Linked DNA regions of Homo sapiens: region 2 is linked to region 1. The links come from fine-mapping of genetic effects on gene expression. Tissue or cell type: blood mononuclear cells. Region 1 holds a variant in brackets; the other region holds the start of a gene. All regions are shown on one strand. Distances are from middle to middle.

The links. PIP is the estimated chance that this variant, and not a neighbour inherited with it, causes the effect.
Region 2: it holds the start of LINC01088, and the variant in region 1 is fine-mapped to the expression of LINC01088 in blood mononuclear cells (TOPMed, PIP above 0.99). The same link has a PIP of 0.9 or more in whole blood.

The regions. Positions count from the first base shown.
Region 1 is chr4:79,206,766-79,214,876 of GRCh38, reverse strand. The region is part of intron 4 of LINC01088 (long intergenic non-protein coding RNA 1088); the gene reads right to left. It also overlaps a transcript of NAA11 not described here. Among named protein-coding and RNA genes, the nearest start is that of NAA11, 120 kb to the left of the region's middle. The variant C/G (reference allele first, on the strand shown) is at 4,077.
Region 2 is chr4:78,966,933-78,975,043 of GRCh38, reverse strand. LINC01088 (long intergenic non-protein coding RNA 1088) reads right to left here and starts at 3,296. Exons shown (of 6, transcript NR_038342.1): 1 at 3,168-3,296; 2 at 1,992-2,044.

The sequences.
Region 1 (8,111 bases):
TGGAAGGCAGAAATGCAAGAGAGGGTGAGAAATAAGACAGGACTGAAGTTGGACTTTTATTTTTATTTTTATTTTTTTTTAGATGGAGTCTTGCTCTGTTGCCCAGACTGCAGTGCAGTGGCGCCATCTCGGCTCACTGCAAGCTCTGCCTCCTGGTTCATGCCATTCTCCTGCCTCAGCCTCCCAAGTAGCTGAGACTACAGGTGCCCGCCACCATGCCCAGCTAATTTTTTGTATTTTTAGTATAGACAGGGTTTCACTGTGTTAGCCAGGATGGTCTCGATCTCCTGACCTTGTGATCTGCCCACCTCGGCCTCCCAAAGTGCTGGTATTACAGGCGTGAGCCACGGAGCCCGATCCTGAACTTGGCCTTTTATAATAAACCCACTCCCACACTAATGGCATTAATCTAGTCATGAGGGGGGACCACATATGGCCTAATCACCTCTTATTAGGCCCCACCTCCCAACACTGTTGCATTGGGGAATAAGTTTCTACTACATCCTTTTGCAGGGCCAGGGGGTGGTTCATTCAACCAATAGCATACATATATATCAAGTACTTGTGAAAGATCCAACTAAATTCTGTCATATTGGTCTCCATTGCATTAACATTTCTGTTATCAAAATCAAGAGTCCTTACTACTTCCTTCCAGTAGTAGAGGAGTATTTCTATTTTATATGTTCTTGTACCACAATGTGTATTGGAAATCAAGCAGTTCTTTTGCAAGTCATCACCATAAAAAATACTCATGATCAGCAACTGGCTCATAGAGGGGCATTTGGAACATTTGTCAATTCCTGTGTTGTGGTGGTGTAAATAATCCCACTATGGTTAATTTAAAGCTACCAATGATTTACCAACCAGAATGCAAAATTCCTGAAAATATAAGAGTCAGATAGTAAGAAACAGTACTAGCCAGCCCCAGGATATCAGTATTTATTAAGGGCCTATCTGCATGTGCTACAAATTGGGCACTCCATAAATAAGTGGAAACATCAATGACTTGTGTTTCTAAAATGATGTCATCAGTATTTCTGTGAAGGTGAGCAATTATAATGAATAGAGCTAGTTCTAAGCATAACCAAAACAAGTGGAGAAGTAAAGGACATAAGGGATTCCATGTACTTGACCCTCATCTAGTTTAGAACCAGCTTGAAAAAGAAAATAAATAGCTGGATTTTGTTTAGAAACATAAGCAGATAAATGATGTCTTCTCCCATATGATATTCTGGCATATAAACTATAAGATAATCAACTAAATTGAAACACACAAATAAATAAGAGTTTAACTATATTTTAATCATAAGAAGTTCATTTTATATGAGTCATATAAAATGTAAAACAAAAGCTTCCTATTCTTACCATATTATGCATAAATGGGATAGTTTATGCTGATAAAATTTCAAATATTAATTTTAGGAAAAGGAGTTTTTCCAAATCTGAATTTATAAAGTTTTGAAATGACAGACCACATATCCTCAAACCATGGCTCTGATTATCAGAATCCCTAAAGAAAAAAAAAATCAACTACATATCACATCAACTGATCACTTTTACTGCTTACATTTCTGATCCACATGTACTTGCCTGCCTGTACATATTAATATTTCAGCATGTAGCAAAATAACTGAACCCCTGAAGCTCTTTGTTCATTAATACTACTATCTGTCCCATGAATACAGTTGTCATCCTGTGCTTTTGGCAGTTGCTGAAGTTAATTTGTTAGCTTGATAGCCCCACCCAAAACATTGCTCTTTCATTGTGATAATAATGAACCAGTATAAAATTTTTTATACCTTGGAATCAATGTAAAAGTAAGTAAGTGTCTAGTTTACAAGTAGAGTACTGTATTTGGTGTTATAAAGAATAAAGAAAATGGTATATAATATGATCACTGTTCCAAGGAGTTTACAATCTAATTGTGGAGATAAGATAAAGCTTTATGGACAAAATGACACTATACAATTATAATACAGTAGTCCTTCTTTATCCTTGGGGGATATGTTCCAAGACCACTAGTGCATGCCTGAAACTGTGAAGAGTACTGAACCCTTTATATACTGTCTTTATATATATATATATACCTATAATAAAGTTGAACTTATAAACTAGGCACAGTAAGAGATTAACAACAATAACTAATAATAAAATAGAACAATGATAACAATATATTGGATTATAAGTTACGTGACTATGAATTCTCTCTTTCCTCTCAAAATATTTTAGTATTTTTGGACTACAGTTGAGCATGGGTAACTGAAACCATGTAAAGTGAAACCGTGGATAGGAACAGACTACTGTGTTCAAGGAAGATTCAGCCTTTCATTAACCTCATCTCTGACAACCCAGGAAGCAAACAAACAAGCAAAACCTTTGCAAGGTTTTGCAAAGGCCATGTACATGACAAGGCCTTTGCAAGAAAGGAAGCCTTGAGTGCTCACTTAGCAATTATTTCCTACTTTTATAACATCCCAACAAACTAGGCTACGTAATTCAAGCCGACAACTGATTTAAAAGTATCAAAACAGACCTTGGGAGAAATAATGGCCCAGAGTAAAATGAAAAGAAAAACTTTAATAACAGGGGAAATAGTCCTATATATTTTAATGGAGCATTTCAAAGAGTACTATGTTTGACTAATAAAAATTATTGTTCATAATGTTGACCCTAAGTCATCAGGAAAGTGTGAAATTAGAATAACCTGTTTAAAATGGCAAGGAGGCATGTAAAATGTCTTTTGAAAATGTTTCATTCAAAACAGTTAAGTTGTATTGCTTATGACAGGGCATCTGCTATACAGAATTTCTTATGCTCCCAGTGTTTAACATAGCAGAGGTTTCACTGTATATTTTTGTTCTAGAAAATTCCAGGAGACACCTGGCATTGGCAGAGTCTTTTTAAGCTTATGAGAAGAGCTCTCATGAGTCAGAAAAGTTGACATTTCTTTCTAGACTATCTTCCAAGATGAGATGTTTATAAACTCACAACTTTGGGGAAGTTTACCAAATGGTGATAAGAAGATGGTCAATTCTAGACCCATTAAAATGGATGACATTCTAAGGAATTTACCTTGGTTCTTCTGTTTTCCTGCAAAGTGAGCCATTCAGGCATTGCATCTTCTGAAATTTCCTCGCCTCTTTCAGGGAAGCATATTGGGACAGAGCTTGCCAGCTGTCTGCTCCCTTTGCCTTCTGCTGCCATTATCCTGAGGTACCGCCCCACCTTCTGGCCCTCCAGCTTGTGGGGGGTGGGGAATAGGGAGGAGAACAGAACTCTCACTGCCTCTGACATGCATAACACAATGAAAAGAGCAGAAGGAATGTATATCTATACATATATTTGTCTCTCTCTACATATAGACATACATAGACTGATAGTACGAGTGTGTGCATGTATATGCATGTGAATCCACATGCCCAGTGCCAGAATATCTCTATATGTATATATACACGGTATATATTCCATATGCTCTTTCTTTCTGCAGCACACATATGCAGCTGGGAATAACTACTGTGAAAAAAAATTACATACTCACCGAAGACAAATTATGAAGCAGAAACAAGAATATATGGAATGTAGCTATTATAAATTCTTCTCATCTGCTGCCTGCCTTTATTAGAACATGCTCATGTAGCTTAAGAAAATATCTAGCGTTTTATATTGCATGCATATAAAACTACCTCTTTTCCCTCAGTCTCATGTTTTACACAAGCTCAGCCAGTCACTTAAGCTGGTTCTGGACTCACAACTAATGTAATCAAAAGGTTTAAAGAAACATAATAAATACTTAATGCTGAATTATGATGGTTGAGTAGATTACTGGGCAAAAAAAAGCACTGTATAGTTTGAGCAAACAAAAAGATGACAGGATTCCATAATAGACAAATGTGTATAATGACTACTATCTGCAAGTCACTGCACAAAAGACCCAGGCATCCACTTTGTCGTTTAATCCTCACCTGCCCCTATGCAGTTATTACCATCACTCTCGCCATTTTACAGATAAAGAAAGCGGGGTTTAGAGAAACTAAATAACTGACCTATTGGGCCGGGATCTGGCTGCAGTATATCTG[C/G]CTCCAGAGCCTTTCTTCTTCTTTTTTTTATTTTTCTTTTTTTGAGACGGAGTCTTGCAGAGCCTTTCTTCTTAAACACCATCTTACGCTGCCGCTAACCCAGGGTATATTAAGATGTCTAACATATATAGAAGCATATGCTGTGCATATAGGAATATAAAAGCATATGATAGTAGTCTAGGTGGTGGAAGCTAACCCCTCCTTTTAAATTTATTTTTGTCATTCCTTTACTATAAGTAGTTGATAAATTTCATGATGCACAATTTTGTAAGGTCCTCTGAACAGGCTATGCCGTGGTGAAGCCATTATGATCCCTGTGATCCACACGTACACATCCAGAAGGTCTCCTGGAGCCAGAAAGTCTGGGACAACAGGAAAACCACAAAGGAAGAAAAAACAGCTAGTTCCTGTCTTAGCTGATTAGCCAGCCTTGCAACATTCTACCCTTGTAACATGCTCTACCCTAACTGATCAACCTCGTGACACTGTGCCCTGTGACCCCTCCCACCTTGTGATAATGTACCTTGTGACATTCTTCCCCGCCCGCAATAAACGTCCCCTAACTGTAACTTTCCACTGCTTAGCCCTAACCTGTAAAACTAGCTCCAATCCCGCCACCCTCCACTGACTCCCTTTTCAGACTCAGCCCACTCGCACCCGAGTGAATCAACAGCCTTGTTGCTCACACTTAGCCTGTTCAGGTTGTCTCTTCAATTAGACACATGCATAACAAATTTAACCAGTGTATTTTTTTTCAGAACAAGTCTTGTTCTGTCACCCAGTCTGGAGTGCAGCAGCGTGATCTCAGCTCACTGCAATGTCCCCCTTCCAGGTTCAAGCGATTCTCTTACCTCAGCCTACCAAATAGCTGGAATTACAGGTGTGCGCCACCACGCCTGGCTAATTTTTGTATTTGCAGTAGAGATGAGGTTTTGCCGTGTTTGCCAGGCTTGTCTCCAACTCCTGGCCTCAAGCAATTTGCCCACCTCCATCTCTGAAAGTATTGGGATTATACATGCGAGCCACGACGCCCAGCCCTGACCAATGTAATCTAAACTGGGTTATTGAGGGTTCAGTTACAATGAATCTGATGTAATTTTTAACTCAAATTTTAAAATAACTACAAGTGTGCAACTTAAATAAGCATTAAAATAGTAAAAAAAAATCCTTTTTTTCCTACTTATATATTAACTTTTATTAAAATTTATCAGGACAATAGTGGCTTACTTACTCAGAGTGACAACAGTAAGCTGAATACTTTCCCAGCATTTGCAATGGTCCCTCTGGGGAGTTGGGTTGGGTGTTCAGTGGATGTATTAACTTTTTTGGGCCACCACAATACACTGAATAGCCTTTAATGGCCTGAAAACGCAGGTGATTAAGCATTCATAGGCCAAGTGACAAATGGCAGCAATCCCAAACCATTTCTCAATGAAGACTTCTTGTTTAGGAATTTATAAGGAAGTAATCACTTAGTAAGATCTATCACCCACTTCAAATGCTTCAATTATTCATCTCACTAACACATTGAGCTTAATTCTCCTCAGTGTCTAAATTGCTTCCTGATATTAATTTAAGGGCTTGAGGAGTGATCCTAACTCATTTAGGCCACTTGGTGCTGTTAAGACTTGTGAAATGTATTTCAGGAAAAGATGCAATTCAGCCGACATTTCAAAAATTGTTCAGCCCACGAACTTCTCACCAGCCTGTCCATTTACAAATTTCAGGCAGTTAAGACAGTAAGTTTAGTACATAATCCCTGCAACTATATAAAATACATTATTATTAGAAAAAAATTATGCAAGCCTGAAAATTTTGTTCCAGAAGCAAAGGGCAGTTTTGGTTTTTTGGGGTTTTTTTTTTTTTTTTTTTTTTGGCAGTTATATAATTTTTTGAGATCACTTTCAATCTACTAATCTCCAGATTTGGGGGAATTTATTTTAATTTATTTATTTTTATTTTCTTGAACCAAATCCAAATTATTAGTTTTAGCTGGAATTCCTTCATTTTTTTAAAGCTTATAATCTAAATTTCTATGAAGAGGTATTATCCTATTTAGCCAAAATATTCATACATGAAATATGTATAATGCTATACAAATGTGACTATTACTTTAAATATAAAATATTAAATTGTAAGCAATAAATATTAGGTTAGGAACAAAACTGAGTTTGGAAAAAAATGTAGAACTACTTCCTGGACTTAATCTCTCCTTTTATAGATGCACAGTAATCATCTATGCAAGAATAAATTTAGCTTAGAGGCTTTTCTTTCATATGTGGGCTAAAAGCCCACCCTTTGTCCAATAGAAATGAAAAGCATGTATATCTATTTCAGTCAGAAATGCAAAATATCTGTATTGGAAGTCCTTTATAGAAAGTATAACCTTGAACTTTCAAATAAGCGTGGTACTTTATAACTATGTTGCACCCTAGCAGCTAAGTCTTATGGTAGGTTCTCATTAAGTATTATCACATTTAATTATTAATAAAACACTTGTTAAGAGTGTTAATATTATTGTATTATTTTTCAGATTAGAACACTGAGGCTTATAGAGTTTAAATGCCTTTCTGGAAATGATTTAGCTAGGGAGAGGCCAAGTGAGGAAAAAACCAGGCCACCTTATTCCAAAGTTAGAGCCCTTGATTCTCGCAACATTCTGTTCCTCCTGTCCAATTCCTATTGAAAGTCAAATTTTGCGAAAATGTACTTAAAGACTGTCTGGAAGTCAGGTAGTTATTTTATTTCTGTAAATATTCTGTTTCAACTTTATTAATATGCCATGCTTACATATCATAATTTGATCTTTGTACAATTGCTTTAAAAGGAATTATCCTTCAATGTTTGATACCCACCTACACTGAGGATCATATTACAACTGGCATATAAAATACATAATATAGAGAAGATGTTGAAGATATCATCCACCCCATAGAAGACAGTCCTACTTTTTTGTTTTTTTAAATGAAGAACAATGTTCTTTTTCTTTATAAAACAATATGTCATTGAAGAAAAATTAGAAGAGAGTAGGAAAAATGAATGATAAAAGCACTCATAATCCCCAACATCCAGTGGTCACTAATGATAACCCTTTGAAGTGTAACTTTCTTGATCAGTTTAGTATGCTAACATATTAAAGAGCATGTTAGGTGTATTAGTCTGCTCAGGCTGCCACAACAAAATTTCACTTAAACAACAGAAATTTATTTTCTCATAACTCTGAAGACTAGAAGTCCAAGATTACCATGCCAGCAGGCTTGGTTTCTTGTGAAGCCTCTCTTCCTGGCCTGAAGATGTTGACTTCTTGCTGTGTGCTTGCATGGGGCCTCTTGTGTGCATGCAATTGAAAGAAAGCTCTGTGTTTCTTCCTCTTCTTCCAAAGCACAACAATCCTAAGGGATTAGAACTCTCCTTTTTTTTTTTTTTTTTTTTTAACCTCATTCAACCTTAATTACCTCCTTAAAGGCCCTATCACCAAACACAGTTATAGTAAAGATTAGACCTTCTGGAATGGATTAAAAAACAATGCAAATATCCGCTGCCCACTTTCACCACTTCTATTCAACATAGTACTGAAAGTCCTAGCCAGAGCAATCAGGCAAGAGCAAGGAATAAATGGCATCCAAATTAGAAAAGAGAGTCAAACTATGTCTATTTGGTGATGATACAATCTCATATCTCAAAAATCCTAAAGACTCCTCCAAAAAACTCCCAGACTTGATAAATGAATTCGGTAAAGACTCAGGTTACAAAATCAATGTATACAAATCAGTAGCACTACTATACACCAATAATGACCAAGCTGAGATCAAATTAAGAACTTAATTCCATTTATAATAGCTACAAAAAAACCAAAATACCCAGGAATATAGCTGTTTGAAATTCTTGTTCTTTGATGCTGTAAAGAAATAGCACTTGAACGTAAATTTAATTTTTTCAGCAAGGCTATTTTTACTTTCTGCAGAAAGGGTACACTTGCTAGCAGTTTTGCTACGAGAGTACACTAAAAAAAGAAAAGAGGGTCATTTATAACTT
Region 2 (8,111 bases), 240 kb after region 1:
TCATGTATAATTCTAAACCCTGATTAAAACAAAACTAGTCTGAATCTGGTAGCAAGTAAATTTATATAAACATATTTTATTGTAATTATATCTAATATTTAGGAACACATTTACCACTCCACAGATGCCCAAAAGTGTAAAAATAACCCTAGTGCAACTCATTAGGAACACTAAACACCAAATGTGTCACTTGATGAGAAACTGCTAAAGGCTTGCTAATAAATAGTCTAATTTCTATTTGCTTCCCAGTTAATCTCGTTTTTAAAAATGTTAGAACACAACTAAGTTGGGCAGAGGAGTAATCTCAATGCTTAGATCTTCCTCTGTCTTCTCCTTCTCACTTAATTTCTCAACCCTGTCTTTAGAGTTCTTGAATCCATGGCCCTCCTAATCCCATTTGGTTTTGCTTACAGTAAACAAAAGCTTCCTTTTTGAGGGACCATTGACTCTGGGATGGAGCCCAGAAATAACCTGGTGGTCTCACTAGAGGGGTTCTGATGATTACCAGGCACCTGCAACAGAAGCCTTCAGATATGTGGACGTTTGCACTGATTGGGGGTAATTTTTCTATTTTATGCACTTTTAATGCATTTTCTATTAATCAACAAACAGAGAACACAACCCCAAATAACTGAGCAATGACCACGGCTAAAAAGCTGGAATGTGAATTCAGCTTTCCGGGATTCCCAAGCTTCTTACTGCCCACAAAGCAGGACACAGACATGCAGAGATATGTGCTCAAAAACTGTCTTAAAGCCGTATACAAAGACAGCATCACTTTGAATTATGCTACAAAACAGTGCCTGAAAGTTGTGTATGAAGTAAATTTCCATTACAAGAATCACAAATTGATATTTTATTTTGAAGCTATTTACAGAGATGTGTTACACAAGTCCTAAAAATGTGTCTCCCTGACCATGCCACATGCATGGGCAGAGGAACACAGGCACACACATGTACATATACACAAGCCCCTTCACCTGGCTGACTTTTTCATCACTCCTCATCACTTCATCAGGCAAGTCTTCCCAAACCCTCCAGACTCAGCTCAATCCCCCTCATCTTCTCATTGTCTCTGTAGCTCTTACCATAGTTGCCAACTGATTCATTATTTGTTAGCAGAATAGGATAGTGTTTAAGTGTCAGATTCTCAAGCCAATCTTCCTAGGTTCAAATATCAGTTCTGTCACCTACTGGTTGTGGGATCTTGAGCAAGCTCCTTAACCTTGCTTTGCCTCAGTTTCCTCAACTGCAAACTAGAGATCAGAGTTCCATCTTCTGGGATTATTGAGTGGAACATGTGAGATAACGCATGTAAAATATTTGGGAAAGTGTCCAGTACATAGTAAGTTCTATACAGGTATTTGCTATTATTATTTATCAGCTGTGAGCATCACTCATTATGCTGTAAGGTGCACAAAGGCTGGAATTGTTTCTGTATTTCCCACTCCTCATATCTGCTTTCAAATAGTTTTTGGAGGAAGAAAGTTGTGAAATCCCAAAGTTTCCTCTGCCATCACTAAATCTCTTCATCTCATTCACAGCTCTGCCACATTCTCTACGGTCACCACCATTGGAGTTGCTGTCACCACAGCTACCACAGCCCCTTTACTGACACATCCAAATACCTTAAGTTCAAAAGGCTGTGGCATCAGATTCAGAAAGAAGAGTGCTAATTCTAAAAGATAGCCATTCGAGCAGCAGCAATGTAACAGATGTTTTGTTGATTTAGCAATTATTTCAAAGGTAACAAAAACTCTGGCTAACAATAGAGGAGGAAGGAGCTTACGCTCCAGAAGAAACACACCAACAACTACAAATTCACAGCCACTATCCACCAAGGGGGTACAAAATAATAGTAAGAATAACAATAACAAAAACAACAATGAAAGCACTAAGATGCTTTCAAGGGAGGCACCATAGCAGAGTCGTCATGAGCACAAGACCTGGATCCTGCCAATCTGGGTCTCAAGCCCATCTCTGTTACTTACTAGCTGTGAAACGCTGAGCTGTTTCTTAATTTTTACGTGATTTAGCTTCCTCTCTGAAAAATGAAGATAAAAATAGTATCAGCACCACTACAGTATTACTATAAGGACTAAAGAATTACCTTTTGTAGAGAACTTGGAACAGTGACTGGCACATAAAAAGTATTCAATTAATGTTGGTTATTTTTGTTAATTGAAAGAGTTTTCACAGACATATCTCAAAGGACCAGCACTGAGAGTTTTCCACACATATATTATGCAGACACACACACACCCAAGACCTTTTTCCCGACACCTCACATTAACACTACACTTTGATACAGTGTGTACTCTCTCAGGCCCTTTCCTTGGGCTCTTACACAAAGCCAAGAGTTCTGCCTGTTGCTCTTTTCCCTGATGTGACTATTACCTGTGTTAAGACAGGTATCTTAACATGCATAGATCTTAAATCAATCTATGCATGGCTACCATTATTTCACTGCAGAACACGGACTAATAGTCCCAGCTTTACTTCTCAATCGAGGCTTTCTGTAAGAAGAAGAGCTTCCTATCCAGGTTTTCTTATGAACACACAAAGACCAATCTTTTATCCATGGCCTAACCCAGTGTTTACCAAACTTGAATACATCTGAAGACTTGCAAAGCTCTATCAATTTCTGTCTGAGAGACATATTCCAACCCTTAAATTTATGAAAGACTCAACAAGCTGAAAAAGCAAGCAATACAATTTCAGAGAAGTAGTTTATCCAAGGATACATGGACAGTAAAAAGTAGAACTATGCCTTAAAACCCTTCTTTTGACTTTAGTACAATGTTTTCTTTTAAATTTTATTTATTCAAGAAGTTTGGAATTTAGAAATCATGGAGATGATTGGGCAAACCTAATACTAAAGGAAAAGTCAGATAATCCATAATATCATTGCTTTTTATCCCATTAAAAAAGCTGAGAATACTAATAAAGCTAACTTAACTAAAATCTGTATAGTTATGATCCCGTTCTATAAAAGAAGAGACCAGTGAATTTTTTCATCCCTGGTGGTGCAGCAGGAAACAGAATCTACCACAGAAAAGAAAATGAGGAACTACATGAATCTTAGACAACTATTAAGACCTGTGTGTGAACTAGCTTGACATGCTGGAGTCCCAAGGAACCCATCCACACCATCAAGCTGTACTCACCTGCCAGCACTTTACCACAGGTCTTCACCAGGCACAGAGGAGGACTATACTGAAGACTGAGGGAAAGTCAAGAAATCTGAGAGAGAGAGATCCTTGAGGCATGTGAACCTTCCCTAAGTGCAAGGCAGCATCCCAGTGAAGACTGGAGTCAGGGCAGAAGAGTTAAAAGAAATCTGTCTGAGAAAGTCTAGGCCTTCACTAGGTCAAAACAGTTGCAACGGAGGCCAGAAATAAGGCAGAAGAACTGAGAACAGTTGCTCAGAGTGTTGCAAACTTTCATTAAGTACAAGGCACTGGATGCCAAAGGCTTGAAGCAGCAGAGCAAAAAGAAGAGAGACCTCCTGAGATTAATAAAGTCAGAAACAGGAAAGGAAAAAGAACTCCCTAGCAACCAAAACAGTCTGGGAGCACACAGAGATCTCTGAAATCTTGCCAGTGCTCAGATCACAAGCCCTAGTGATAGAAAAGACCTTATTCTGTTTTCAAAACATTTGAAGTCAGTGGTAAACTAATCCAACTAAAGCTGAAATAATCCCACATACCTCAAATATACAACAGATTTCCTCAACTTTCCCAAGAAAAGGTCTAACAAAAAAAGTATGCACTTTTTTAGGGTAAATAAATATTAATTTTCTCAATCTCTACTATTTTTCTCACAATATCCAACATAGAGTAAAAAATTTTGAGACCCACAAAGAGAAAAAATGTGAGCAATAATCAAATGAGAAAACAGTCAACAGGCTGAGACTCTAGAAAGCACAGACGTTAGATTTATCAGGGAGTAACTTCAGCATAACTATGATAAATATGTCAAATAATTCAGTGGAAAAGGTAGAGAGCATGCATGAATATATAGAGAATTTCAGCAGAGTAATGAAAAGTATGAAAAGAAACCAAACTGCAATGTCAAAATTTGTTTTTAAAATACACTGTCATCAAAAGAGAATACATATTAGGAGTCTAACAGGCCATAAAACACAACAGTAGCCTATTAGCAGCAGCAAAAAGCAGAAGTAAACCTGAGGACAGGTCAATTATCCAAAAATAAATAAATAAATAAAAGGGGGAATGAGTGAAAAACTTGAGTCTATGATCTCTAGGACAATATTAAGTAGCCTAGTAAATATGTAATTGCATCTGTGAGAGATAGAAAATGAGTCAGAAGAAATCCTTGAAAACATAATGGCCAAGAATTTCTCAAAATTGATTAAAAATATCAAACCTCAGCATCAGGAATCATAGTAACCCCAAAAGAGGATAAACACAAAAACAGAACTAGGCACACCATACTCACTCTGTTGATAGCCAAAGATGATACAAAAATCTTAAAAGCAGTCAGAGAAAAAAGAAACATTACACGGAAGAAAAAAATGATAAAAATTATGTCTAATTTCTCTTCAGAAACAATTACTCCAAAACAATGGAATGACATCTTTAAAGAGCTGAAAGTGAAACATGTTAGTCTGGAATTCTGTATAGGATTCTAAATAGATTCTACATAAAATTGTAGCATAGTCCTATATCCTACAAAAATGAAAAATAAAGACATTTTCATACCCTTCTCCCCAAATCAGATTTTTTTTCCAGGAGACCTACACAAGAAATGCTAAAAGAAATTCTTCAGGGCCGGGCGCGGTGGCTCACGCCTGTAATCCCAGCACTTTGGGAGGCTGAGGCAGGCGGATCACAAGGTCAGGATTTCGAGACCATCCTGGCTAACATGGTGAAACCCCATCTCTACTAAAAATACAAAAAATTAGCCAGGCCTGGTGGCAGGCGCCTGTAGTCCCAGCTACTCGGGAGGCTGAGGCAGGAGAATGGCATGAACCCAGGAGGTGGAGTGTGCAGTGAGCCTAGATAATGCCACTGCACTCCAGCCTGGGTGACAGAACGAGACTCCGTCTCAAAAAAAAAAAAAAAAGAAAAAAGAAATTATTCAACATGTACATAATAGGCACATAAAATAGGCACAACAAACCATTTGGCAAAATCCAACATCCATTCCTCATAAAACGACTCAGTGAAAAAGAAACTGAAGAGAATTTTCTCAACCAAAAAAAAGCACCTATGAAAATGTATTATACTGAAAGATAAAAGACCAGAACAAGACAAGAATTTTTACTCTCAACACTTCTATTCAACTTTGTCCTGGAAGTTTCAGCTAGTACAATAAAAAAAGAAAAGAAAAATAAATAAGCACAGAAATCAGAAAAGAAGAAATAAAACTGTCTTTATTCACAGACAATATGATCATTTGTATAGAAATGTGATGGAATCGAGAATCAAAGCTACTTGTACTAATAAGTAAGCTTAGCAAGATTTCGGGATACAAGATTGGCATATAAAATCAACTGAATTTCTATATACTAGCAACAAGTTATTGGAAATTGAATGTTTTAAATGTCGCTAATGATAACATAAAAATATATAAAATAGGGATAATGTACATAAAAGATGTGGAAAACCTATAAACAGAAATCTTAAAACATTGTTGAGAAAAAATAAAGAAAAAACAAAATAAATAGATATATTAATTAGCCAGTAATATATAAAATATTACTCAATATTTTAAAGATGTCATTTCTTCCCAAATTATTCTACAGATTCCAGCAAATTCCAATCAAAATCCCAGGAGGACTTTTGTAGAAATTGACAAAACACATATGAAAATGCAAAGAACCTAAAATAGTCAACAGCAACTATTTTTTAGCTCAGTGGCAAGAAACAATAGCAACTTTAAAAAAGAACAAACAAGTTGGGGGGTTAACGCTATTTGATTCAAGACTTCTTGTAAGTAATCAAATAAATGTAGTACTTGTAACATACACCAGTAGATCAATGAAGAAACAGACCTGGCCAGGCAAGGTGTCTCATGCCTGTAATCCCAGCACTTTGGGAGGCCGAGGTGGGAGGATCATCTGAGGTCAGGAGTTCAAGACCAGCCTGGCCAATGGTGAAACCCCATCTTTACTAAAAATACAAAAAAAGAAAAATTAGCCAGGCATGGTGACACATGCCTGTAATCTCAGCTACTCAGGAAGCTGAGGGAGGAGAATCACTTGAACCCCGGAGGCGGAGGCTGCAGTGAGCCAAGATTGTGCCACTGCACTCCAGCCTGGGTGACAGGGAGAGACTCTGTCTCAAAAAAAAAAAAAAAAAAAGAAAAGAAAGAAAGGAAAGAAAGAAAGAAAGACACCCCCACACATACATGAGCAAATGTTTTCCACAAGGATGCAAAGAAAATCTAATAGAGAAAGAAAGGATAGTCTTTTCAAAAACAATGCTGGAGCAACTGGATATCCACATGCAAAAAAGAAACTTGAATCTGCCCCTTAATATATCTATTTATTTTGCCACATGCAAAAATTAACTTAAAATGAATCATTGACTTAACTGAAAATAAAATGACAAAACTTCTTTTTAAAATAGGAGAATAACTTTTGTGACCTTATGATAGGCAGATTTTTCAGATATAACAAAAATAATCTACGAAAGAACAAACTGACAAATTGGACCTTATCAAAATTAAATGTACTGTTCTTCAAAAGATACTGCTAATAGAATAAGAAAATAAGCCACAGGATGGAAGAATATATTTCCAAATGATTTCTATAATTTTTTAAAAAACTAGTATCCAGAATACATAATGATTCAAAATAAATTGAATCACTGTATTCAAAAGAAATAACCCAATGTTTTAAAGGACAAAAGATTTGAACAGACACTTCAGCAAAAAAGATAATGAGTGGCAAATAAACACATGAAAAGAGTCTCAACATCATTAGTCATTATGGAAATGGAAATTGGAACCACAATGAGATGCCCCTTCATACCTGGGTAAATGGATAAAATTTTAAATATCAATAAACAAACAAATAAGTAGAAATTGACCATACCAAGCATTGGTAAAGATATAGGAGAACTGGAACTCTCATACACTTGATGGCAGAATTATAAAATAGTATAACCCATGGTCATTGGAGGAAACAGCATAGATGTTAATCAACAAATTAAAAATAAAACAACCATATGATCCAGCAATCCTACTTCTGGGTATTTATCCAAAGGAAATGAAATCAGTAAGTCAGTGAGATATCTGTACTTCTATGTTCATTGCAGATTATTCACAATTTCAAGACATGGAATCCACCTAAGTGTCTATTAATGGGAATAAATAAAATGTAGTATATATACACAATGGAATAGTATTCAGCCATTCAGCCATAAAAAATGAAATCTAATCATTTGTGACAACATAGATAAATCTGGAGGATATTATGCTGAGTGTAATAAGCCATGCACAGAAAGACAAATACTGTATGATCTTACTTTTATGTGGAATCTAAAAGAGTTGAACTCATAGAAGCAGAGAATTGAAAGATGGTTACCAGGGGCTTGTGAATGTGGGGACAATGTGGAGATGTTGGTCAAAGAGTAAAAAGTTTCAGTTAGACAGGAGAAATAAATTTTGGAGAATGATTACACAACATGGAGACTACAGTTAATAATAATCTAAACTTGAAATTGCGGAAAGAGATTTTAACTGTTCTTACCACAAAAAAATAAGCATGTGAGGTGATAGATATGTTAACAAGCTTGATGTAATAATTCCACAATCTATACATATATCAAAACATCACATTGTATACCATAAATGTATGCAATTTTTATTTGTCATTTAAGATATAGATTTGTAAATTAAATTAAATCATAAAATACTACAACTACTTTGAAAAACAGTAGACTTTTTTTTAAGGTTACCACAAAATCCAGCCATTTTACTATTGGGTATTTACCCAAGAGAAATAAAAGAATATGTCCACATAAGACCTGTACACAAATGTACATAGCAGCTTTATTTTTAATGGCCCAAACTAGAAAGAACCCAAATGTGCATAAACAGATGAATGGATAAAGAAACTATGGCACACCCATACAATGGAA